7 linked regions of the Homo sapiens genome follow. The protein of the gene in region 5 purifies or fractionates together with the protein of the main gene of each other region. This does not show direct contact. Each region holds a gene or a part of one and is shown on either strand. Other genes may lie near its edges.

What was found.
Region 1: the proteins of CEP43 (region 5) and PPP2R1B purify together in Homo sapiens (co-immunoprecipitation; 2 studies listed by BioGRID and IntAct, with this or other methods). This does not show direct contact.
Region 2: the proteins of CEP43 (region 5) and CDK5RAP2 purify together in Homo sapiens (co-immunoprecipitation; 2 studies listed by BioGRID and IntAct, with this or other methods). This does not show direct contact.
Region 3: the proteins of CEP43 (region 5) and ESCO1 purify together in Homo sapiens (affinity purification with mass spectrometry; one large-scale study listed by BioGRID and IntAct). This does not show direct contact.
Region 4: the proteins of CEP43 (region 5) and MSL3 purify together in Homo sapiens (affinity purification with mass spectrometry; 4 studies listed by BioGRID and IntAct, with this or other methods). This does not show direct contact.
Region 6: the proteins of CEP43 (region 5) and LYN purify together in Homo sapiens (affinity purification with mass spectrometry; 2 studies listed by BioGRID and IntAct, with this or other methods). This does not show direct contact.
Region 7: the proteins of CEP43 (region 5) and GNS purify together in Homo sapiens (affinity purification with mass spectrometry; one large-scale study listed by BioGRID and IntAct). This does not show direct contact.

The regions. Positions count from the first base shown.
Region 1 is NC_000011.10:111,749,390-111,752,889, forward strand, and holds part of PPP2R1B (serine/threonine-protein phosphatase 2A 65 kDa regulatory subunit A beta isoform), read right to left. Parts: intron 2,944-3,500; coding exon 2,770-2,943; intron 1-2,769. UniProt on the Homo sapiens protein: The PR65 subunit of protein phosphatase 2A serves as a scaffolding molecule to coordinate the assembly of the catalytic subunit and a variable regulatory B subunit.
Region 2 is NC_000009.12:120,402,168-120,405,667, forward strand, and holds part of CDK5RAP2 (CDK5 regulatory subunit-associated protein 2), read right to left. Parts: intron 1,947-3,500; coding exon 1,869-1,946; intron 905-1,868; coding exon 639-904; intron 1-638. UniProt on the Homo sapiens protein: Potential regulator of CDK5 activity via its interaction with CDK5R1. Negative regulator of centriole disengagement (licensing) which maintains centriole engagement and cohesion. Involved in regulation of mitotic spindle orientation.
Region 3 is NC_000018.10:21,569,705-21,573,204, forward strand, and holds part of ESCO1 (N-acetyltransferase ESCO1), read right to left. Parts: intron 1-3,500. UniProt on the Homo sapiens protein: Acetyltransferase required for the establishment of sister chromatid cohesion. Couples the processes of cohesion and DNA replication to ensure that only sister chromatids become paired together.
Region 4 is NC_000023.11:11,768,237-11,771,736, reverse strand, and holds part of MSL3 (MSL complex subunit 3), read right to left. Parts: intron 3,165-3,500; coding exon 3,055-3,164; intron 1-3,054. UniProt on the Homo sapiens protein: Non-catalytic component of the MSL histone acetyltransferase complex, a multiprotein complex that mediates the majority of histone H4 acetylation at 'Lys-16' (H4K16ac), an epigenetic mark that prevents chromatin compaction.
Region 5 is NC_000006.12:167,047,897-167,051,396, reverse strand, and holds part of CEP43 (centrosomal protein 43), read right to left. Parts: 3' UTR 1-3,500. UniProt on the Homo sapiens protein: Required for anchoring microtubules to the centrosomes. Required for ciliation.
Region 6 is NC_000008.11:55,886,335-55,889,834, forward strand, and holds part of LYN (tyrosine-protein kinase Lyn), read left to right. Parts: intron 1-3,500. UniProt on the Homo sapiens protein: Non-receptor tyrosine-protein kinase that transmits signals from cell surface receptors and plays an important role in the regulation of innate and adaptive immune responses, hematopoiesis, responses to growth factors and cytokines, integrin signaling, but also responses to DNA damage and genotoxic agents.
Region 7 is NC_000012.12:64,738,907-64,742,406, forward strand, and holds part of GNS (N-acetylglucosamine-6-sulfatase precursor), read right to left. Parts: intron 1,783-3,500; coding exon 1,700-1,782; intron 594-1,699; coding exon 475-593; intron 1-474. UniProt on the Homo sapiens protein: Hydrolyzes 6-sulfate groups in N-acetyl-d-glucosaminide units of heparin sulfate and keratan sulfate.

The sequences.
Region 1 (3,500 bases), on a different chromosome or scaffold from region 5:
TCTCCTGCCTCAGCCTCCCAAGAAGCCTCCCAAGTAACAGGCACCCACCACCACACCCGGCTAAATTTTTTGTATAGTAGAGATGGGGTTTCACCATGTTGGTCAGGCTGGGCTCAAACTCCTGACCTCAGGTGATCCACCCACCTAGGCCTCCCAAAGTGCTGGGATTACAAGCGTGAGCCACTACGCCTGGCCTATTTTCCGGTTTTTGTAGTTTAACTTTACACTTACTTAACATCGTCCACAAGCCAGGTCATACATAAAGTCTTGAGAGAATTTTATAAAATGACTATCTGATATAAAAATATTTAGATATGAAGAGAAATTAAGGAGAATATATATACTAACAAGAAGTTAAAATTGTAAAGCAAAATGTTCATGACTGAGGCATGTCACCCCTGCCAGACAGGTGTAAGTCAGCCAAAGACACCATCTGCCTTGCTTTCACACTGCTCTCTATAGAGCTAGCAACCCTGGGAAACTTTCCAGGTCTAGAAGGAGCAGAGGTTAAAAGAAATGGTACTAAAATGCACCCTCCCTTCCAGATAGTTTTGGTCTTCAGCAAATCAGTTAATCACTGCTCCTCTCCACTCTGAAAAGTAGATCCATGACAATCACCAGTGAAGAGAAGATGACCCATAGCACTTGGGAGTGACAGACAAAAAGGATGACAAAATAACTTCACCTGATCCCATTTGCCATGCACTAATACCTCTGGTATACTTTTCAAAGAATCGGACACTTTCAATTTTATAAAACATATAATGCCACAGACATCCACAAATTGCATGTTCATAAACTAAATGTACTAAAATTAAAAATACAAATTCAGGGGTTCAAGACAAGAAAAAATAAATTCCATATGTTGTGACCTGAAAGGAATGGAAGTGGGAGTGAGGAAGGGGAAACAAACTGTAGCGATGTCAATAGTAAACTGACACATCTTTCTCAAAAAATACTCAACAATCAACAAATGTTGGCTATACACAGTGGCTCATGCCTATTATCAGCTACTCAGGAGGCCGAGGCAGGAGGATCATTTGAGGCCATGAGTTCAAGACCAGCCTGGGCAACAGCAAGACCCTGCCCCCAAAATAAAAAATGTTAAGTGCCTAATTAATGACGGGCACTATGGTAGGGACTGGAAATAAAATACAGTCCCTGCCCTAAAAGAGATCACCCATCTCTCCAACTAGACTGTAACAGACAATTACAATACTCTGTAATAAGTGCTACCAACAGAGATGAAGGTACATCAAACTTAGAACTGTCTAGGCCACCTACTCAAAAAAAGGAAAGGATGTGGCTATAAAACCCAGCTTTGAAATTTTAACTAACATGGTATTAGTTAGGGTAACACTGATCACGAAACTCAAACAGTAACAGATAATGTGATAATGTGGACTTTGACCAAAATACTAACATTACAAGCTTCAGTTTTTGTTTTTGTTTTGTTTTTTTTTTTTTGACACAAAGTTTTACTCTGTTGCCCAGGCTGCAGTGCAGTAGTGCAATCTTGGCTCACTGCAGCCTTCGCCTCCTGGGTTCAAGCGATTCTCCTGCCTCAGCCTCCCGAGTAGCTGGTATTACAGGTGTGCACCTCCGTGCCCAGCTAATTTTTGTATTTTTAGTAGAGATGGGGTTTCACCATGTTGGCCAGGCTGGTCTGGAACTCCTAGCCTCAAGTGATTCGCCTGCCTCTGGCTCCCAAAGTGCTGGGTTTACAGGTGTCAGCCACTGTGCCCGGCCTTTCAATACTTCTTTTCTATATGGTGATTCCTCAACTCCCTTTAATCAGAATGTAGGGCAAGTGGTACCTAGGGACATTTTGCTTAGAATACAAGGCAAACAGGGAAGTTTCCTTGAGCAAAAATCACAGCAGACTTACCCTAAAACCATAATCCCTTTTCTTCTCAGTTAAACATTTCTTAAGTCACAAAGGCATTAAATATTATAAAATTTACATTATATATACCAAGAAACTGATTATTCTATGGCTTTGTTTTTCGGTGGTGATGAGGTGAAATATGTTTCTGTAATACAGATTAAGCATCCCAAATCCAAAAATCCAAAATGTGAAATGCTCCAAAATCCAAAACTTTTTGAGCACTGATATGATGCTCAAAGGAAATGCTCATTGGAGCATTCTGGACTTTGCATTTTTGAATTTGGGCTGCTCAACCAGTAAATATTTATAATGCAAATATTCCAAAATCCACTTCTGGTCCCAAACATGCTGGTCCCAAGCGTATTTAGATGAGGGATACTCAACCTATACCTTTTTGTTAGAAATGTATGCACTAATAGGCCAGATGCAGTGGCTCACGCCTGGAATCCCAGCACTTTGGGAGGCTGAGGCGGGTGAATCACCTGAGGTCAGGAATTCAAGACCAGCCTGACCAACATGGTAAAACCCCATCTCTATTAAAAATACAAAATTAGCTGGGTGTGGTGGCATATTCCTGTAATCCCAGCTACTTGGGAGGCTGAGACAGGAGAATCGCTTAAACCCAGGAGGTGGAGGTTGCAGTGAGCCAAGATTGCATCATTGCACTCCAGCCTGGGCAACAACAGTGAAACTCCATCTTAAAAGAAAAGAAACGTATGCACTAACAAACATAAAAACCATCCTATAGGTAACAAGAACAAGGCCATACTTTCATGCATCTAAACAAACATAAGCATACAGGCTACTAGGCCTCCTACTTGCCATGGTAAATTGTCACTATCTGACACTACCCTGCAGTTCATGGAGCAACACATACTCACCAGCTGGCCTGCCAGCAGCGGCATATACTCAATGATGGCCAGGCGGACCCTCCATTTGGCATCTTCTGCCAGCTCCACTATGGCAGGAAGGAGAGACTGAGAGAGCTGACGGATTCCAATCACTTCATTTACACAATCCAAATTGGAGATGATATTCAAACGAACGTCAGGACACTGCAAGTACACAAGCCCCAAAAGACCACATTTAAAAATCAAGTACTCTGCCCAACAGTCTCCTGTCAGGGTAAGATAAAAGGTGAGGTAAGACTCAGGTGAAAAAAAAATGGATAATCTTGAAGAAATAATAGTGAATACATAAATAACTCAAGGAACATAAATGATCTTAATCAGAAATTTCAATTAAAAGTCCGTAATACTAAAGACTACAAGAAAAGTCCGTAAGATGGTAAAGAGCATAATCTCTGGAACTAAATCAGATGCACTCAAATTTCAGATCTGTCATTGTTGAAAGACCTTGCTCAAGTTACTTTAACCCTCTATGCCTCAGCTTTCTCATCTGTAAAATGGGATAATTGGCCGGGTGCGGTGGCTCACACCTGTAATCCCAGCACTTTGGGAGGCCGAGACGGGCAGATCACGAGGTCAGGAGATCGAGACCACAGTGAAACCCCGTCTCTACTAAAAATACAAAAAATTAGCTGGGTGCTGTGGCAGGCGCCTGTAGTCCCAGCTACTCAGGAGGCTGAGGCAAGAGAATGGCATCAACTCAG
Region 2 (3,500 bases), on a different chromosome or scaffold from region 5:
CTGTGGTCACAGCTACTTGGGAGGCTGAGGCAGGAGGATTGCTTGAGCCTAGGAGGTGGGGTCGAAGCTACAGTGAGCCATGATCGCGCCACTGCACTCCAGCCTGGGTGACAGAGCTAGATCCTGTCTCAAAATAAAAAAAACACAACAACAACAAAACCTCAACAAAAACAAAAATGTAGTGAGACAAACGTTCATGAACAGAGATAGAATTGTTTTGCAAAGTAATGGAGCAACAGTTATCATCAAGAGCCCTAAAAAGTTCACAACCTTTGAACTAGTAATTCCACTTCATAATGGGCGACAGCCAGGTGGATGGGCAGATGAATGGACAGACACACCAGGGTGCAGATGGAGAGAAGAATGGATGAGAGACCAGATGTACAGAGGCCGTCATGGGAACAAGACAGCAGAGCCCATGGAGCAGTTGCAGGAACACAAGGCACAAACCCCACCAAACACAGCCACCACCAATAGTTCCCCACACTGGACCTGACCTCTGAGCTCTCTGAGGCCACACTTCCTGGTCCCTCTTCTCAGGGTCCTAATGAGGACAACTGCGCCATTTGACTCCCCTCCCCCTTCCACCGACACTCCCAGGGAGCAGCTTGTGCCCCCCAGCTCTGTGGTCAGGTTACCTTTGTTCCCAGCTCTTGACTTGTGGAGCTGGGAGCCTCTTGGGTTTGAATGTCCATTTCAGCAAGGAGCCTCTGTCCCTGGCTGATCTGTTTGAGCAGGGCCTCATAGTCCTCAATCAGGCCCAGGACATGGCGGCCATTCTTGCTGGCCCACAGGTGGTGGCCAGTGACCAGGCGGGACACACACGGAGTGCTAGTTGCCGAACTGCCACTGTCGCAGGAGAGGGAGTCCGTGTCATTCCCAGAGAGTGGAGGAGTCTCTGAAACTGTAAAATGAGAAGTAGGATGTAAAATCTGTTTCAGGTAACACTCTGCGTTCAAGACGCTTATGATGTTGAAGCTAGCTAGGAGGGCTAGAAGAGGCCCTCGTGCCCAAATGCCACCCAACACAAGCCCAGAGGGGAAAAGAGGCACGCTCCTGGACCTCTGTATATTACCCCACACTGGGCTTATGAGTCATCTTGTAGGAGAGGCTCAAGTCAACTCAACCAACACTTATCAACCACCCACTCGGCAGAAGACCCCAGATTCACAAGGATGACTCAAGCTGGTGCCTGCATTCCAGTAGCCCACAGTCTGATCAGAACACAGACACTGCAGAAGGTGCAACAGCAGAGTGATGAAGGGCCAGAGCCAGAAAAAACAATTATCTGTGCAGGGAGGGAGAGAACAGGGAAGGCTTCTGAGAAGGAGCAGCATTTGAACTGGATTGAGCAAGTAGCAAGAATTACACGAATGATGAGTCATTCTGACCAAGGACAGCAGCAAAGGCATGTCACAGAGAAATGTGTATTCATGATGAGTCTTGAGGAAACGGGACTTCTACCGGCAAAGAGTGGGACAAAGGGGGTCTAAAAGTCACAGTGAGAGGAAAGTGTGGGCCTGTCTGCAGGATGGTGACCCCTGTGTGGCTACACCAGGTTAAGGGATAAGGCTGGACGGACCCACTGGAGCTGGATCCTGGAGGGCCTTGAAAGCCTCACAAAGGTGGTCACAATTTTAATCTAAGGCAAGAGGGACCCAATGATGTTCTAACCTTGGTAACACCTAGGAGTGGATTAACTGGCTTGAAGGAGAAGATCACCAGCTGGGGATGCTGAGAACTTGAAATCCCAAATCCTTACCAAATACCCTCCTGAGTTGGGACCAGGGACCCCCCTTTTCTGCAAGTTAAAAAGTCTTACTGTCACATCCAATGCTCCCACAGTTACCTGGACTTCAGCTTTGTACCTGATTTTGGTGTCACTGCCTGGGAGGAATCAAACAGATCAAATGAATTATCACTTTCCATGGGATATTTGTCACCATCTACAAAATGCAAAACACGAGAACTGTTAGTTTCACTGTTGTCAGCATTCAAGAGAGAACTGAAAGAGAATACAGTCAAGCCCCTCACATTCACTTATCCATACACACACAGCATTCCTTCAAATCTTCACTGGGCCTCTGTCCTGCCAAGCCCACCTTTGTGGGACACCAGGGAGACAGAGTGACCAGGCCCAGTCCATTCCCTAGAAAAACTCTCAGCAGAAAAGTAAATAAGCAATTTTATTTTAGTGTGATCAAGGACAAGGGAGGGAAACACAGGCTGTTGGGGCTCAGGTGAGGGGCACTACCCCCAACTTGGCTTCCCAAAGGCTAATACCCGTTTTAAAACCTTATGTTTTAAGACTGATTGTGACTGACCTATGGTAAGAAGGAGGGAAAGAAATGCCAGGCAGCACAATGGGCAGGTGAGAGGCAGACAGTGGGACAAAGAGTGGAATCATCGCTCAGGGAGAAATAAGCAGTTCATAGACCCAAGGCCCGGGTGCAGGGAAGGACAAAGTAGAATGCAAGGCCAGAACCAAGAGGACTGAGGGGCCCACTCAAGGGCTTTGGGCAAGGCAATGTCAAGCTGAGGTCTGTATTTTGTACTGAAAGAGTAAGTCTGGAGGCTGCCACACTAACCTAAGCTAGAGATGAGAGTAACCCACAATAGGATCTGGGGGGTGATGTATTTGCAACACTGTAAGGAGGCAAAACCAATAGATGCTGTACAGATGACCTGTGCAACACGTTATAATTTGGAAAGCACTTTCACATATGAAAAGCTATTGGACTCAATAGCTCAGTGGGCAAAACACACTGTAATTCAGATTTCATGGAAGGGGAGACCAAGGGGCAGAGATAGAAAGTGATCTGTCCAGCATAACCCAGCATGTCAGTGGCACAGAGCAAGGAAGCCTAGGGCTTAGGATCCCCCTTCCGAGCTCCTGCACCACTGGGCGGTGGGCTGACTGCACTCCAGCATTTCCCAGGGGTGTGCTACAGTTCCTAAGGCCAAGGAGCCAGGAGGTCAGCTCCATAGAGCTGGCCCCAAGAGGAATCACTCTCAGTGAAAGACATCAGCCTTTAGAACAGAATTTTTAAAACAGATGCACTTAAATACAGACCTGAGAAGTCTTTTGCAAAGGAAGAAATGCTGCTGCCTATAATTCTGATCTTGACTCAAGGAAATTATAAAACTTTTCTGCTGAGGCAGCACTGTGAATTCTGAATGCTCTCCTGGATGCCTCTTGCCAGGCATGATGAGGGCTGCTTTCGGCAAATTTCAAAAGCAGGTAAAGGCTGTTTGATGGCCTCCTCACTTCAGCTACCCAACTCTCCTTCCTGGGTACCCCAAGCACAGAACTGTTCTCCCTGCTTCAAACTCCCCTAGCCTACCCCACAAGTTCCTGAATCCCATCTCCTCAAAGCCTTAAAAAGGGCCAGGTGCAGACCCGTGTTGAAAATAGTAATGCCCAATGCTGAGGTCACACAAAAACCACTACCTTTGTACACTGCTGATGTACAGACTATTTAGAAGGTGGCAATATGGCA
Region 3 (3,500 bases), on a different chromosome or scaffold from region 5:
TTGCACTTAGCTGGGTGTGGTGGCGGTCCCAGTTACTCACGAGGCTAAGGCAGGAGAAATCACTTGAACCCGGGAGGCGGAGGTTGCAGTGAGCCAAGATCACACCACTGCACTCCAGCCTGGCGACAGAGCAAGACTCCGTCTCAAAAAAGAAAAAAATACTCCAAACTCCATCAACAGTGGCTATCTCAGGGAAATGGAAATGGAAACTTCTTAAGGGCAGGAAACCTATCCATGTTCTATGGTCCTAGCACAGCACAGCACCTTGAATACAGCAGGCACTCAAATATGTCCTGAACCAATATGGTCACCACCACATTTCCTGATCACTCTGTGACAGTGGTCAAAATGTTGAGATTAGTGAAAAATAATTGGAAACAATCTGAAAGGTGAAAGTCTTCTTTTTCTTTTGAGATAGAGTCTCACTCTGTCACCCAGGCTGGAATGCAGTGAAATGATCACAGCTCACTGCAGCCTCAACCTCCTGGGCTCAAGAGGTCCTCCCGCCTCAGCCTCCCAAGTAGCTGGGACCACAGGCACACATTACCACTCCTAGCTAATTTTTAAATTATTTTGTAGAGAGGGAGTCTCACTATGTTGCTCAAACTTGTCTAAAACTCCTGGGCTCAAGAGATCCTCCCACCTCAACCTCACAAAATGCTGGGATTACAGGCATGAGCCACTGTGCCTGGCCCAAGGTGAAAGTCTTTTCATAGAAGAAAAGATAAACTTGTTGTATATTCCCATAGTTTTAAAAATACTCAGGTATCAATAAGTATCAAATATAATGTTGATTACACAAAGCCAAGTTACAAAAATATATGTGCTAGTATTTTTGTAAAACACTGAAACACAAACAAAGCTAAGTATTCTTTATGAATTTATATACACATAAAATCACAGAAATAAAAACTGAAAAGATCCACATCCACTTTAGGAGCACATTTTAACTATAGGGAGATGGGTAAATGGAATAAAGAGTTGCAGTCTTCGGCCAGGCGTGGTGGCTCACACCTGTAATCCCAGCACTTTGGGAGGCCGAGTTGGGAGGATCAGGAGGTCAGGAGATCGAGACCATCCTGGCCAACGGGTGAAACCCCGTCTCTACTAAAAACACAAAAAATTAGCCGGGCGTGGTGGCAGGCGCCTGTAGTCTCAGCTACTCAGGAGGCTGAGGCAGGAGAATGGCGTGAACCCAGGAGGCGGAGCCTGCAGTGAGCCGAGATGCACCACTGCACTCCAGCCGGGGTGACAGAGTGAGACTTCATCTCAAAAAAAAAAAAAAGAGTTGCAGTCTTCATCTACACCTGTAATGTACCTTTTGTAACTTTAAAGGATTTTCAGTAATTTTTTTTAAATGTTAACTTTTGTCAAATCTGGGTGGTAGACATATGAGAGTAATGTTCATCTCTGCTATATTCTAAATGTTTGCAATATTCCAGAATTTCAAACCGTAAGATTTTTAACATAGCAACAAGTTTCTTAGGATATTTTTTTTTTGAAGACAGACTTTCACTCTGTCACCCAGGCTGGAGTACAGTGGCGTGATCTTGGCTCACTGCAGCCTCCGCCTCCCAGGTTCAAATGATTCTTCCACCTCAGCCTCCTGAGTAGCTGGGATTACAGGTGTGCACCACCACACCCAGCTAATTTCTTGTATTTTTAGAAGAGATGGGGTTTCACCATGCTGTCCAAGCTGGTCTCGAACTCCTGACCTCAGGTGATCCAACTGCCTCAGCCTCCCAAAAGTCCTGGGATTAAAGGCATGAGCCACCACGCCTGGCAGGATGGTTTCTTATAATGTTCCTCCAAACAGAGGGGCTGCATAAATTCAAAGTATCTTTCAGTAAAAGCAATGTTATCAAAGGTCAAAATAATGTGGTCTACATAAACATCTTCATTCAAGTACAGTTTAGTACAAAGGAATGAATTAGATTTCATATCCATCAATATACTCTCCATAAACTGCCTTCTGAGTTTTGACAGGCATTTATGCAGCAAGCAATTAGAAGACACACTCTCCAACTACATCTGGAGACACAATCCTGAATAAAAAGCCACTACATCTCTGCACAAAGCCACAACTTATTACTCATACTACAACTCACTACTTATTTCTAATTACTATCACTGACTGGTAAAATCTCTCTGAACAATCATCTTTTAATTGATGCTTGCATTCCTGTCTATATAGAAAATAAAATCTGAGAGTACAATATGGTGTCTTCTCCCTTTAAGAAAAATAATAGACACTGATCTATTTTCATGGCTTCTGGAATAAAGCCCAGACTCCTAATGCACTCACATTTGCTCCTAGACAAAATGTCTCAAAAGAGAACTTTAAATCACTTGCAAAACTTTGAAATGACTTGACTTTTTTCTCTATTCATGATTACTTTTTTTGCTCAAATGATTTCTAATGTTCAGAGTATGTTGTTTTAGAAAGAATGCTGGGCTAAGAATTAGAACACCTGGATTCTAATTCTATTTGTGCCACCAAACGTGTTGCCTAAATCACATTCCACTCCAAGTTTTCTTATTATAAAATTAAACAGTACAAATAAATCAGTTTGATCTATGTTAGAGTTCCAGGGTTCTATGCATATAAAATTTCTGCTTATTGGTTTTATATATTAGTAGTCTACATATAATTTACTTTAGAAAGAAAAGGGCTCAGCTGCTTTCATAAAATTTAAAACTACTTTCTTAGGTAATCAAAATTTATTCCAGATACAAGATTCTGGTTTTCAGTTTACTTTTCCATTTCAGAGTCTTGGCCACTACAATTTTATTCTTAGGCTGAAGACTGAATTATTTATACCTCTCAGACAGACATTCTACTTGCCAACTATTCAAAATGGCCACAAAGGTCATCTCCTTAAAAATGTTTAACTTTTAAATTATATCCAGTAGGAAAAAAGGCTGATTAGTCCTAGTTGAAATTAATTTTAATATTTAGGTCAAAAGTAGTCCCTAAAGGCCAGGTGCAGTGGCTCACGCCTGTAATCCCAGCACTTTGGGAGGCCGAGGTGGATGGATTACCTGAGGTCGGGAGTTCGAGACCAGCCTGATCAACATGGAGAAACCCCGTCTCTACTAAAAATACAAAATCAGCCAGGCATGGTGATGCATGCCTGTAATCCCAGCTACTCGGGAGGCTGAGGCTAGAGAATGGCTTGAACCTGGGAGGCGGAGGATGCAGTGAGCTGAGATTGTGCCATTGCATGCCAGCTTGGGGAACAAGGGCGAAACTCCATCTCAAAAAAAAAAAAAGTAGTCCCTAAGAAACGTACTTTCTATGGTTATAATTAACAGAAAATCAGTGTGTTAAATTTAAAAGAAAAGCTGGAATTCAACCGGCTTATGCTTACATAAAATAAAAATGAAGAGTAAAAATGAGGAAACAATGAGAAGCACCCCAAGTAAATGTGAGACATCTGAAGTTCTATCACAAGACTGGGTTAATAAAACTCTCGCTAACAACTTAACAGGAGAACTTA
Region 4 (3,500 bases), on a different chromosome or scaffold from region 5:
GTGGTGGTGGACGCCTGTAATCCCAGCTACTTGGGAGGCTGAGGCAGGAGAATCACCTGAACCAAGGAGGCAGAGGTTACAGTGAACCAAGGTTGTGCCACTGCACTCCAGCCTGGGCAACAAGAGTGAAACTCTGGCCCCCTTCCCCTCCACCCAGAAAAAAGAAAATCCTGCTGCACTAGAGAGAGAATGAAGCATTAAAAAGTAATCCATAGATGTTCTGAATAATATTACTGTTGTTTCAAGATTCCTTAATTTCTTGCTGTTAGATTCATTATGGAAACGAATTTGAATCTTTTAACCCCTTGAATCAACTGAAATAGACTTCAAACCTGATAACTGATTTGTCTTCATTCTGAATTTCAGAACTGTGGGTGGACCTGGGGCTTTTGTTAAAGGGAGAGTTGCATTTCAAAACTCTCTGATGAATTTCCGTAAAAGTACTTCAGCAAATTATAGAACCAGAGCCTACTCTACTGAGCTGCTACTTTGGCTTTTGGGACGTCATATTCAATATGGAAACAGTCAGACTGGAGGAAGTCCACCAGCAGACAAAGCAGAAAGAAAGATGCCCCCACAAACTCAGAAACACTGATATAGTCAGTTTAACAACATGGAACTGCCAGAAGCTAATAAGCACCAAGGTGGCCCTGAAGGATCCAGAACAAAGGCCTAGCTTCACTTTGGCCCCTGCCTAGACAGGCCTAGACTCTCGCCTAGGTCTCCACCCCCAGCGCCCCACTTCTGCACTGTGGAGCACTGAGGGAAGGGATCGTTCCAGCATCTTTACAGCATCCCCAGCACCTGCCCAGTGCACACAGCTGAAGCTTTGGAACCATTCTGAAAGTGACTCAAAGGAAACATACAGGACTTTGCAATCTCAGAGGCATGAACAGCACTTGGCACGTACAAAAGCAGGTCATCTGGCTCTATCTCACTCACTCAATTCTGTGTTTCAAGGCAGTTTATAATCTTCTATTTATGAAGACACATTTTCCGGGGAAAAATGGTAGGTTTCTAGTCGGGGGATTCCCAGTGGGGTATGCATGGGAATCATTGATGGACCTTTACTGGCATGTGCTGGCCCAGACCAGCCCCTAGTACTGTGGAGCAGCGATTGGAACTGAGAGAAAGAGCCCTGGTCAAAAAACACGGTGGTAGACGTACGTAAGAAGGTGGGAATCCACGAAGGTCTCATGAGTCCTTGTGAGAGCCGCCTGAACCCCAACCATTTCCCAGAAAGCACTTTCAAACTATAAGTTGCAGCTGTACCTATAACCACTAGATGGCGCATTCGCACTGCAGACCGGAGTGGGAATAGCCCTTACTTGACAACTCAGATGCCCCTTAAATTCACGATTTCCCCTCAATAATAAAATTCGTAGTGCATTCTTATCTGAAAAATGGGCATGTCAGGGACTGCTTGAACTAGGGATTTCCTAACCTACCCTCAACAATCATCATAACACAAATTAGGCTTTCTAGATTCTCTATGGGGTCAGCCAACTGTAGCCCCTAGGCCAAATCCAGCCCCATGCTCATATGTTCAAAATGGTTGGGGAAAAAAAATCATACGAATAATATTTTGTGATATGTGAAAATCACATGACATTAAATTCTCAGTGTCCATGAATGAATTAAGGGGGCAGCACACAGAGCCACACCCCTTTGTTTATGGCAGAGCCACGTCCCTTTGTTTAGGGCTTTCCTGCTGGAACAGCAGAGTTGAGCAGTCTCTCAAGAGACCTTAGGGTACACACTACTGAAGACAGTTATCGTCTGGAAGAAAGTTTTGTGACTTCTCTTCCCATCATCAAGTGCTCTTTGCCTAGGCTGGGCACAGTGGCTCATGCCTGTAACCCCAGCACTTTGGGAGGCAGAGGCGGGAGGATCACTTGAGCTCAGGAGTTGGTGACCAGGCTGGGCAACATGGCAAAACTTAGTCTCTACAAAAAAATGCAAAAATTAGCCAGGCCATGGTGGCATGAGCCTGTAGTTCCAGCTACTCAGGAGGCTGAGGTGGGAGGATCGCCTGAGCCCAGGAGGCAGAGGCTGCAGTGAGCTAACATCCTGCCACTGCACTGCAGCCTGGGTGACAGCATGAGAGTGAGACCCTGTGTCAAAAAAAGAAAAAAATGTTCTTTGCCTAGCAAAGCCATTTTCCCTTGTGCAACTCCTACTCACCTTAAAAAAAGAGGAAATCTCACCTCCTAGGAGACGTTCACAGAATATGCTGATAAACTGAGACGTCTTCAGAATCCCTGACAAACTCACCACCTACAGATCACCTAATGGGCCTTAAAAATAGTTTTAAAATGAAAAGTTTTCCCATCTATCAAGTGGAAATCTGGTGGCAAGGCTGATCTCGAGAATTCAAAGTATTTGGTTCAAGTGTCTGGCACAGTGGTGGCCTAGAGCCCATCCCTGAAGGGACGGCTATTGGTATTACTGTTAATGATGGAGGGGAATCAGGGATTTAAAGTAGGAGTCAGCAAACTACAGCCTGCTGGTCACATCCCGCCCAACTACTGCCTGTTTCTATATTGCCCACAAGCTAAGAGTGGATGTTATATTTTTAAATGATTGAAAAACAAAAAAAATTTTCAAACACATGAAAATTAAATGCTAGTCAAATTTCAGTGTCCATAAATCAAGTTTTATTGGAATATAGCACACTCATTTTATTTACATACTATCTGTGGCTACTTTTGGAGTTAAGTAGCCTTGACAGACACCATATGGCCCACAAAGCCGAAAGTATTTACCCTCTGGCCCTCTGTGGAAATTGACATCTGTTCTATAAAGTAAAAATACTGGTATTTCAATAATTGCACTTATTTAAAAGATGATTGTCAGTGTAGGGCTGGAATCCTAACAATTTTCTCACTTTAGAAACCAAAACCCACAGTGTTAAGCATAAAATTACGTACAATTTTGATAATGTTTACAGTAATAGCAGCAACATGATGCTTTAAGAACCTTGACTTCCACCTATAGAATTGAAGTAATCACAAATAAAGGAACCATTGGGAACAAACATCAAACATTCTTTACCTCGTTTATTTCATTAGTTCTTCTCCCTTCAAAGCCAGCAAACACAGCACTCCCTTCCTTGCTAGGAGTCAGAGGAATAGGTGAAGATGATCTGCTATGCACAGGTGTCTCTTCCAAAGAAAAAGATGAAATTATTCACACAGCAACTGAATTAAAGACTGCCTCAAGACTGTTAAAAACTGCAGAACATAAATCTAAACTTGGTTCTCAGAAATTACCAACCTTTAACGATAAGACTTTCCTAACAGATAGCACCTGAATTTTATTTGGTTAAAAAAATAAGGAATAAAGCACTGACATATGCTACAATGTGGATGAACCTTAAAAGACTATGCTTAGTGAATGGAGCCAATCACAAAGGGCCACATACTATGTTTCCATTTATATGAAATACCCAGGGTAGGCAAATCCAGAGAGACCGAAAGCAGCTTAGTGGTTGCCAGGAG
Region 5 (3,500 bases):
CAAACGATTATAGTTTATAGTTTAGATGATAATAGCCCTGCCCCCCAAAATTAAACTGCCTTTGTAAAACTAATGAAAGGCTACCAGGTTAGGAGGAAGTGAGGGGCCTGAATTCTACTAAGATATAGGTGTAAAGATTACCACCTATTTTCTACAGAGGTCACAAGATTTGCAACTTTCCCAATTACTATAAATAACTTGACTATTGTAGAACCTAACATTTGAGATGACTTTCCAGGCTTTTGCATTTCTGACAACCAGATGGCCCTACTTGAACCTGTACCTCTTGAATTCTTGGCTCAACTGGTCCTCTGGCCCCCACCCAGAAGCTGACTTAGTACACAAGAAACATTTAGTTTCTTAGTACACAAACCCCTGCCCACCAAACTATCTTTGAAAAGACCTAGCCTCCAAATTTTTGTGGAGGCTGATTTGAGTAATAATAAAACTCCAGTCTCTTGTTTAGCCAGTTCTACATGTATTAAACTCTTTCTCTATTGCAATTTCCCTGTCCTCATAAATCGGCTCTATCTGGGCAGCAGGCAAAATGAACCTGTCAGAAACTTACAAATCCAATGTCTCATTTTCTTTCTTTTTTTTTTTTTTTTTTTTTTTCTTTTTTGAGTCTCACTCTGTCACCCAGACTGGAGCGCAGTGGCATGATCTCAGCTCACTGCAAACTCTGACTCCAGGGTTCAAGCAATTCCCCTGCCTCAGCCTCCCAAGTAGATGGGACTATAGGCGGGCACGCACTGCCACACCTGACTAATTTTTGTATTTTTAGTAGAGACAGGAGTTCTCCATGTTAGCCACGCTGGTCTCGAACCCCTGACCTCAAGTGATCTGCTGGTCTTGGCCTCCCAAAGTGCTGGGATTACAGGCGTGAGCCACCACGCCTGGCCAATGCCCCATTTTCAATGATGGATAGAACAACTAAGAGTAAGATCAACAAGGAAATAAAAGACGTGAACGACACAATAACAAGACCTAAAAAACACCTGTATTAGTCCGTTCTCACACTGCTATGAAGAAATAGCCGCAGCTTGGTAATTTATAAAGGAAAGAGGTTTAATTGACTCACAGTTCAGCATGGCTGGGGAGGCCTCATGAAACTTACACTCATGGCAGAAGGCAAAGGAGAAGCAAGGCACCTTCTTCACAGTGTGGCAGGACAGCCTGAGTGCAAGCAGGGGAAATGCCAGATGCTTATAAAACCATCAGACCTTGTGAGACTCACTATCATGAAAACAGAGTAGGGAAAACCACCCTCATGATCCAATTACCTCCACCTGGTCCCACCCTTGACACATGGAGATTATGGGGATTACAAGTCAAGATGAGATTTTGAGTGGGGACACAGCGAAGCCATATCAACATCTATAGAACAGTTTACCCAACAACAGCAGAATAGATATTAATATTTTTAAGTGCACATAAGACATGCTCCAAATGCAAATCTAAACCACAAGAGATACAATGTCACACCTGCCAGAATGTCTATATCTAAAAAGAGAGAGAATAAGGAGTATTCGTGATGATGTGGAGAAACTGGAAGCTTCATGCATTGCTGGTAGGGATATAAAATGGTGCAGCTGCTTTGGAAAACAATTTAGCAATTCTTCAAAACACCAAACATAGAGTTATTATATTACTCAGAGGCTCCACTTTTATGTACTCAAGAGAAAATAAAGCATATTATATATCTACACAAACACTGCATATGAATGTGCTTAGCACTGTTATTCACAACAGCAGAAAAAGTGGAAACAACCCAAATGTCCATCAACCAATGAATGGATAAAGTGTGGTCAATCCCTACAATGGAGTATTGTTAGGAAACAAAAATAAATGAAGTACTGACAAATGCTACAACACAGATGACTCTTGAAAACATTATGCTAAGTGAAAGAAGCCAGTCATAAAAGGCCACATAGTGTATAATTCCGTTTATATGTAATGTCCAGAAGAGGCAACTCTGAAGAGACAGGAAGTGGTTGCCAGACAGGGAGCTGAGAGGAATGGCGGAGCATAGGGAGTTACTGCCAATGGATACAAGGTTTCTTTTTGGGGTGAATTTTTCAAAATTTACTGTGGTAATTGTTTTATAGCACTTGAAGTTCATAAAATTTAGAGTTGCCTTCTTTTCGAAAGTGAATACAAAAGTATATAAAATTACCTGTGAATGAGGAACAAATCCCAACAAATCACAAATTTTAAAAATCTGACAAATACCACAAACGTCACAAAATCCAGAAAACTAAGATATCTATAACTGCCTGGCATGGCTTTTTGATACATCTGTGCTACATTAAACAGCAAACGTTCTATATGACTTTTCCATAGGACAATGATTTTAAAAATATCTTTCAACAGAGATAAAAAATCAGTTTACTCTGTTGATCAAAAATGATTTTTAATTCTTGAGAGGTTTTAAGGGTTTCATCAGTCTTTACAATCCCTTTTTTAAAATGTCATGAAAGTACTAGAATTGTCACATTTCTGGAAACCTTTTTCAAGTTCTTTTTCCACATATGAGTTTAGAGGCTATTTCACACTTTCAGTGACTAAGAACATTTAGTGATGTACATGCTCTTTCAATGACATTCATTAACCAATTTTTCATTAATGTCATCATAATGGCATATTACAGTTTTATGTTATTTACATCAATATTTTGTGTCAAATCAGTAATAATTTGAATATTTTTACCATGTATTTGCATGGTGTCTTCCCCTTCAGTAATTGCACTGTCAAATCATAGAAGAGCTCCTCATGATCTCTGGGCAACATGGAATTTATGAATCACTGTTTTGATATAATTTGAAAGATAGTTTGTTACAATTAGTTCTTTTTTTTGAGATAGGGTCTTACTCTGTCACCCAGGCTGTAGTGCAGTGATGCAATCTCAGTTCACTGCAGACTCGACCTCCCCGGCTCAAGCAAACCTCCTGCAATCCTCCTGCCTCAGCCTCCCGAGTAGCTGGGACCACAGGCATGTGCCATCATGCCTAGCTAATCTTTGCATTTTTTTGTAGAGACAGGGTTTCACCGTATTGCCCAGAATGGTCTCAAACTCCTGAGCTCAAATGATCCTCCTGCATCAGTTTCCTCAATAGCTAGGACTACAGGCACAGGCCATGATGCCTAGCTAATTTTTATATTTTTTGTAGAGATAGGGGTCTTACTATGTTGCCCAGGCTAGTCTCACAAACTCCTGAGCTCAAGCAATCTGCCCGCCTTGGTCTCCGTAAGTGCTGGGATTACAGGTGTGAGCCACCACGCCTGCCTACAATTCAGTTTTAATGTCCAGATGATTTCTAACGTTGGATCACTCATCTTTATCATGCAGATATCTAAAAGCAGAGCTAAATAAAGATGCTCATCGTGTGAGTTAAAGCTTGTCTGTTATTCCTAGGCACCACAGTCTGTGGTATACTAAGAATTGTTGTTTTTCTAGTCTCATAATTCTCTTGTGAACGAAATGAAAATGCAGGTTTTCG
Region 6 (3,500 bases), on a different chromosome or scaffold from region 5:
GTTCAAGCGATTCTGCTGCCTCAGCCTCCCGAGTAGCTGGGATTACAGGCATGCACCAATGCACCACCATGCCCGGCTAATTTTTGTATTTTTAGTAGAGACAGGGTTTCATCATGTTGGCCAGCCTGGTCTCGAACACCTGACCTCAGGTGATCTGCCTGCCTCGGCCTCCCAAAGTGCTGGGATTACAGGCATGAGCCACGCGCCCAGCCTGTCAAACTTATTTGACCACAACCCATAGCAAGAAACATTTTACCTTGTGCTCAAATACACATATCTGTAGGCAAAACAAAATAGAAAAAGGAAAATACAATCTGGTGGAACAGCCCCTCCCCTTAACTTGCAGGGGAATGTGGCCTGGAGCAGCTTTTCTGAGGTAGGATTGGCCAGCTCCATCAGAGTTTGTTTGTTCTGATGCATAATAGATATACATAGTTTCAGGGCACATGTGATAATTTAATACATCATATAATTTGTAAAGATTAAATCAGTATTTGCGATAGCCATCACCTTAAATATTTGTTTTCTTTTTAAATGCTGAATCTTTTGAATTCTTCTAGCTGTTTTGAAATGCACAATAGTTAATGGTGAACTCTAGTCACCCTACCAGGTCTTATTTCTTCTATCAAACAGTATATTTGTATCCATTAATCAACATATTTTCATCCCCCCTTCCAACGTACAGAGATGGGCAGTCCAATAGGGAGGTTTATTAAACAAACACAAATTAAGTCACATTCATATAATGGGATACTTTGTAAATATCTTAAAAGATAAAACATTCAATTACAGTTACTAATATGAAAAATTTTTTTTCAAAAGCTGAACACGGCCAGGCGGCCAGGCGCAGTGGCCCTTGCCTGTAATCCCAGCACTCTGGGAGCATGAGGCAGGAGGATTGCTTGAGCTCAGGAGCTCGAAATCAGCCTGTGCAATTTGTCTCAAACAAACAAACAATAGCAAAAGAGCTGAACACAAACTAGTAGATGACATGATACCATTTCTGAAATAAAATATTCATATATGGACACATCATCTATAAACTGCATTTCAAACAATTTTTATACTAAGATCTTAATAGTGATTATTTCTGGGTGACAGTTGAGTGCTGTTTTTACTTCTGTACGTCTTTATATTTAAAAGAATGAGCATCCCATATATACATAAATATATATATAAATCCCACATATAAATATATACATAAATCCCATATAAAAATATAAATATATATATATATATATACACACACACACACACACACACACACACATATATATATATTTTTTTTTTCCTGAGACAGAGTCTTGCTCTGTCACCCAGGCTGGACTGTGATGGTGTGATCTCGGCTCACTGCAACCTCCACCTCCCGGGTTCAAGTGATTCCTGTGCTTCAGCCTCCTGAGTAGCTGGAATTACAGGCACACACCACCATGCCCAGCTACTTTTTGTATTTTTAGTACAGACAGGGCTTTGCTGTGTTGGCCAGGCTGGTCTCGAACTTCTGGCCTCAAGTTATCCGGCTGCCTCAGCCTCCCGAAATCCGGGGATTACAGGCATAAGTCATTGCGCCTGGCTCCTTATATGATTTTAAAACGGCAGGATATAAGGAGCAATGGAATGAAGCCAGTGGGACTGCAGAAGGCAGGTGGAAGCAGACAGGGAACTTTGGAGCTAGAGTGACTTGAAGGACGCTTGATGGATATAATTGTAAGAGTCCTGTCTCAGGAGAGCTGATGCGCTGTAAATGTTGTAAATAGAACATTTTCTTAAAGAACCTTCCACTGCTATGTTTAGTATTCAGTTTAGCAAACTTTTCCTGGGTAGCTACTGGGAGTCCCGCACAGTGTTAGGAGTTGGGGTACACACCTGCCATGTTGGTGGAAATCCTGAAGGGAGTGGGCCACACACCCTGGAAGAAGGGGCTTTCCTGAGGAAGGACAGCCTGACTATGCAGGGGTCATTCCACATTACCAGAGCTTGTTCCAGAGAGGCAGTGGGAGGCTCCACAGGCAGGCTTGGAGGGTGCTTGGCCCTAATACTAAATGTTGGACTTCATGGCATTAACGAAGGGGAATCACTGGAGCCTTTTAGTATGAAGCTAATCTTTTTGTCCATCACAGGCAACTTCTTGCCTACACTCTTTTACAATATGGCATTTATGACATAGCCAAGAGCGAAGACACGTTGAACACTGACTTAATGCTTTGAGTAGGTGGAGAGTTGAATGACTCAAGGCTACTTCTCTAGAGATTAATTTGAAGCTAGAAAGTAACATTTATTTCTGTTTTCTGTGACAGCAATAGGCTTCAGCTTGTAATCGTCATCTGCAAGTAGGTACTTGACACCTCCCCTAAGTGACCTGGAGAGTGACAGATACAGTAATGGGCACAATCCTTGGTTTTTTGTTTTGTTTTGTTTTTGAGACAGAGTCTCACTCTGTCATCCAGGCTGGAGTGCAGTGGTACGATCTCACTCACCAGGGATTTGGCCACCACGCCTGGCCGAATCCCTGGTTTTAAGCAAAATTTTAATATGGAGTTTATGGTTGTTGGTATAATGAAATGCGGCACCATAGCAGTTGATTTTTGTCTTTCAGAACCACACTGGCTTTTTGTATTATTTCAAATTTGATAGATGCCCAATGTATGTAACAAAAATTTTCCCTCACGTGTATTTCTTTCTTTATTTATTTGTATGTTTTGAGATGGGGTCTCACTCTGTCGCCCAGGCTGAAGTGCAGTGGTGCTATCTCGGCTCACTGCAACCTCCACCTCCCAGGCCCAAGCCATCCTCTCACCTCAGTACTGGGTAGCTAGGATTACAGGCCCCGCCACCAGGCCTGCGTAATTTTTTTGTTTTTTGGGAGGCCAAGGCAGGAGGATAATTTGAGCTCAGGAGTTTGAGACCAGGCTGTAACCCCAGGCAGGAGTACAGTGGTGCAGTCATAGCTCACTGCACCCTTGACCTCCTGGGCTCAAGCCATCTTCCCACTTCAGCCTCCAAGTAGCTGGGACTACAGGTGTGTGCCACTATGCCTGGCTTATTTTTTGTAGAGATGGGGTTTGGCCATGTTGGCCAGCCTGGTGTCAAACTCCTAAGCTCAAGGGATCCACCTGCCTCAGCCTCCCAAAGTGCTGTGCTGGGATTACAGGCGTGAGCCACCACACCCAGCCCAAGTATATTTATCGAGTGCTGTATGTCATGATAGTGGGTGGTTTGGGGGAATACCAACATAAATAAGTGGGAGGTTTCTATCCTAGAGGAGTTTATTGTGCTCTGTTCTCTCTGGATTGTTCACAAACCAGAATGCCGATCAAAGACTTTGCTAGGGTTGTGGGTGGGCGACTTGCTCAGGAGATCCCTGGCACCCAAATGAGTGCCCAGAAATCACTCTGAATGGTCAAAAGTAAGGCAGGGCAGGGCGGTAGAGCACAGGGTGTCGAATTAATTTCATGTGGGGGCTGAAATCCCAGGTCTGTCCCTTCCTAACTGTGGGCTGC
Region 7 (3,500 bases), on a different chromosome or scaffold from region 5:
GACATTTATATATGTGGAAAGAAGAAAACATTTGCTTTTAACAACAGAAGGTCCAAGCAGAAAGCATGAAAGTCAAGGACACAGAGCTGACTCATCCTGCAGCTTTTGAAAAAAACAAAAACACCCAAAAAACAAATTCCATGAATGGCAAGAAAGTTTTCCCAAGACAACCTCCTTTTGGTCTTCCTATCTCAAATGCCTTCCATACGGCCTGCCTCCAACCCATCAAGCTCATGCTCTGCTCCCACTCCTAGAACACCATGTCATCTTGCATGTGAAACAGCAAATAATGAAACCTGGTTTCTCCACGTGGGTATGATGTGGTGCTCCAACTGGAGGGGTCCTGAGGGCAAGATCCTCCCTCTGGCATGTCCACAGTTATAAAAAGACTAGAACTCCCTCCCAGGGCTCATTGGGTGAAAAAGGAAAGACATATTCTCAAAGATCACAGCAGTACCTACTCCTGCCTCTGACCTGTGTGATAGCCATTGTCTGAGGTATAGAAGATGTAAGTGTTGTTGAGCTCCCCAGTGAACTCCAGCCTCTTGACCAGTTTCTCCACAAGGTCATCAACTGAGAGGAGAGTTTGCCACCTGGATGTGAACAGAAGGTAGAAATGGGACTTCAGGGGCAATGGCTGAGGTATCACTATCTTGCCAAAAAAAAAAAAAACCAAAAACAAAAACAAAGACACCCCCGTTTAAAAAAAAAAATCCAAAACAACCCCCGTTTAAAAAAAAAAAATTGCAAAACACTCTCCCCCAAAACTCAAATCCCCAATCTCCATTCCCTAGACCTTCCCATTGTAAAAAACAGATTAGAAAATTCCAGAACATAATTAATTCATTCCAAAGTTAATTGTTTCCAAAGAAATAAACTCGTTTTTAAATAACCAGTTAGCTTTACTTTTTATTGGCAATAGTGATGAGAGTAGAGACAATCGGAAGGAAGAGTTGTCCATTCTCAGTACTGTGTATTACAGATTAATTCAGATAGGACTGTGCTACAAAAAAGCTTAAGATGTTTGAACTAGGAGCTGGCAAGCTATGACTCATGGGCCAAAGCTTGCCCACTGTCTGTTTTTATAAAGTTTTATTGGACCACAACCATGCTCATTCATTTACATGTTACCCAGGGCTGCTTTTGTGCTACAACAGCAGAGCTGAGTAGTTGTGACAGAATGTATGACCTGCAAGCCTATTAATATTTACTATCTGCCCCTTTACAGAAAAAGTTTGCTTATCCCTGGTCTACACTAAACACTTCCTAAGAGAAAGTAATGGATTTTTAAAAATTGACTTAAGAGAATTTCTTGAAAATTCCAAATGGCAAAGGCAGATATTTTGATCTTGTCTAAGCTTTTGGGTCATTTGTCACATATGACAATGGGCTCTCTCAACCAAGTCACCTTTTCTTTAAAGCAGGAGAAAAAATTCTACCACATGGTTCAAGTTTGCAAGACTTTTGCCAAGTCCTAAAAATGGGCAGTCTAATTAGTACTGGGGTCCAAATGCCACCTCATTCATTTGAGTGTAAAGGAATCTCTCTGCTTCTGGTGCCCCATCGAAGCCTCTCTCCCACTGACTTGCTTCCCTCTGTTTTTGTTTCAGAGACAACAATGTGGTGTGGTCTCCTCTTCATGAGCTGATTTGCAGGGTCTTTAAAACCACTCAGATTGTTATGTAGCAGCAGCTCTTACCTTTTCCTAAATGCATTATCTAAAAACTGTATTGAAGAATTAGTCATTGGAGTCTTGGCTTGCCTAATTAACCAGTGCTTGTTCTAAAATTTAGAAGAAAAAAAATGTTAACACCAAGTCACCACAGTCAAACAAACTACTGGATTACTACAGTAGATAATAAATAGAACCGTTTCACTCATACTTCAGCAAGAAGGAACTAACTGGAACTTGTTTAAGCAATTTCAGAACTTCTCTCCCTTCCTGTGTTCCTAAAATAGAAATTTCTGTAGATTAACTCAATCTCTCATTCTTCAGCTTCCCAGCACCTCCCAAACCATAAAAGGTCTTGGCTTCTCTGTTGGCAGTATTAAGAGATTTTAGAGGATGTCACTGGGAAACTACTAGCTAAAGCGAGATTACATTTACAACTCTGATCTTATGCCTTTGGTCTACTACAATTAGAAAATGGGCAAATAGGGCGTAGTGGCGGGCGCCTGTAGTCCCAGCTACTTGGGAGGCTGAGGCAGGAGAATGGCGTGAACCCGGGAGGCGGAGCTTGCAGTGAGCCGAGATCCCGCCACTGCACTCCAGCCTGGGCGACAGAGCGAGACTCCGTCTCAAAAAAAAAAAAAAAAAAGAAAATGGGCAAATAACTTTACCTTCCTCTAAGTTGCTTTTTTTGAGACAGAGGCGGAGGTTGCATTGAGCCGAGATCGCACTACTACACTCCAGCCCAAGCCCAAGCTGGAGTACAGTGGCACGATCTCGGCTCACTGCAACCTGTGCCTCCCGGGTTCATGCGATTTTCATGCCTCAGCCACCTGAGTAGCTGGGATTACAGGCGTGCACCAACATGCCTGTCTAATTTTTGTATTTTCAGTAGAGATGGGGTTTCATCATGTTCGCCAGGCTGGTCTTGAACTCCTGGCCTCAGGTGATCCTCTTGCCTTAGCCTCCCAAAGTGCTGGGATTACAAGCATAAGCCACCATACCTGGTCTACCTTCCTCTAAGTTTTGCCTAGCCAAGATATCGGTCACCCTAGATCCTAAGGAAAAATCTTATTACAGCAATTTCCTAAAACTTCAAGTCTAAATCTGGAGGGCCCTCCCATTTAAACAAAGACATCCCTATATACTATTCTCTCTTCTCTATTCGTAAAACCCTAAGCCACCAGATCTCAAACTATGCTCCTCAAAGTGTTATTAAGTTTGAGAAATGCTGTATAGCATATTCTCCTGCTAGAAATTCACATTCGATCATGAATAACTCTGAGAAGTCCTGTAGCAGAGTGACTTATTTAACTCAAACTTTCCAAACTTACTTGACCATGGGAACTTTTTATTAACTTCTTTTGGAACACAGATTGAGAATCGTCCTATTTTACTATTTTTTAATTTATTTTATTTTATTTTATCTTATCTTGTCTCATCTCATCTTATTTTATTTTATTTTGATGGAATCTTGCACTGTTTCCCAGGCTGGAGTGCAGTGGTGCGATCTCGGCTCACGGCAAGCTCCGCCTCCCGGGTTCACGCCATTCTCCTGCCTCAGCCTCCCGAGTAGCTGGGAGTACAGGTGTCCACCACCACGCCCGGCTAATTTTTTGTACTTTTAGTAGAGATGGGGTTTCACTGTGTTAGCCAGGATGGTCTCAATCTCCTGACCTCGTGATTCGCCCGCCTTGGCCTCCCAAAGTGCTGGGATTACAGGCATGAGCCACTGCGCCCGGCCAGTACTCTAATTTAAAACACAGTTCACTCAGCTTTGAAACTGTATTTAACAAGCACATGCCTATAATGTGCCAGACAATATGCTAAT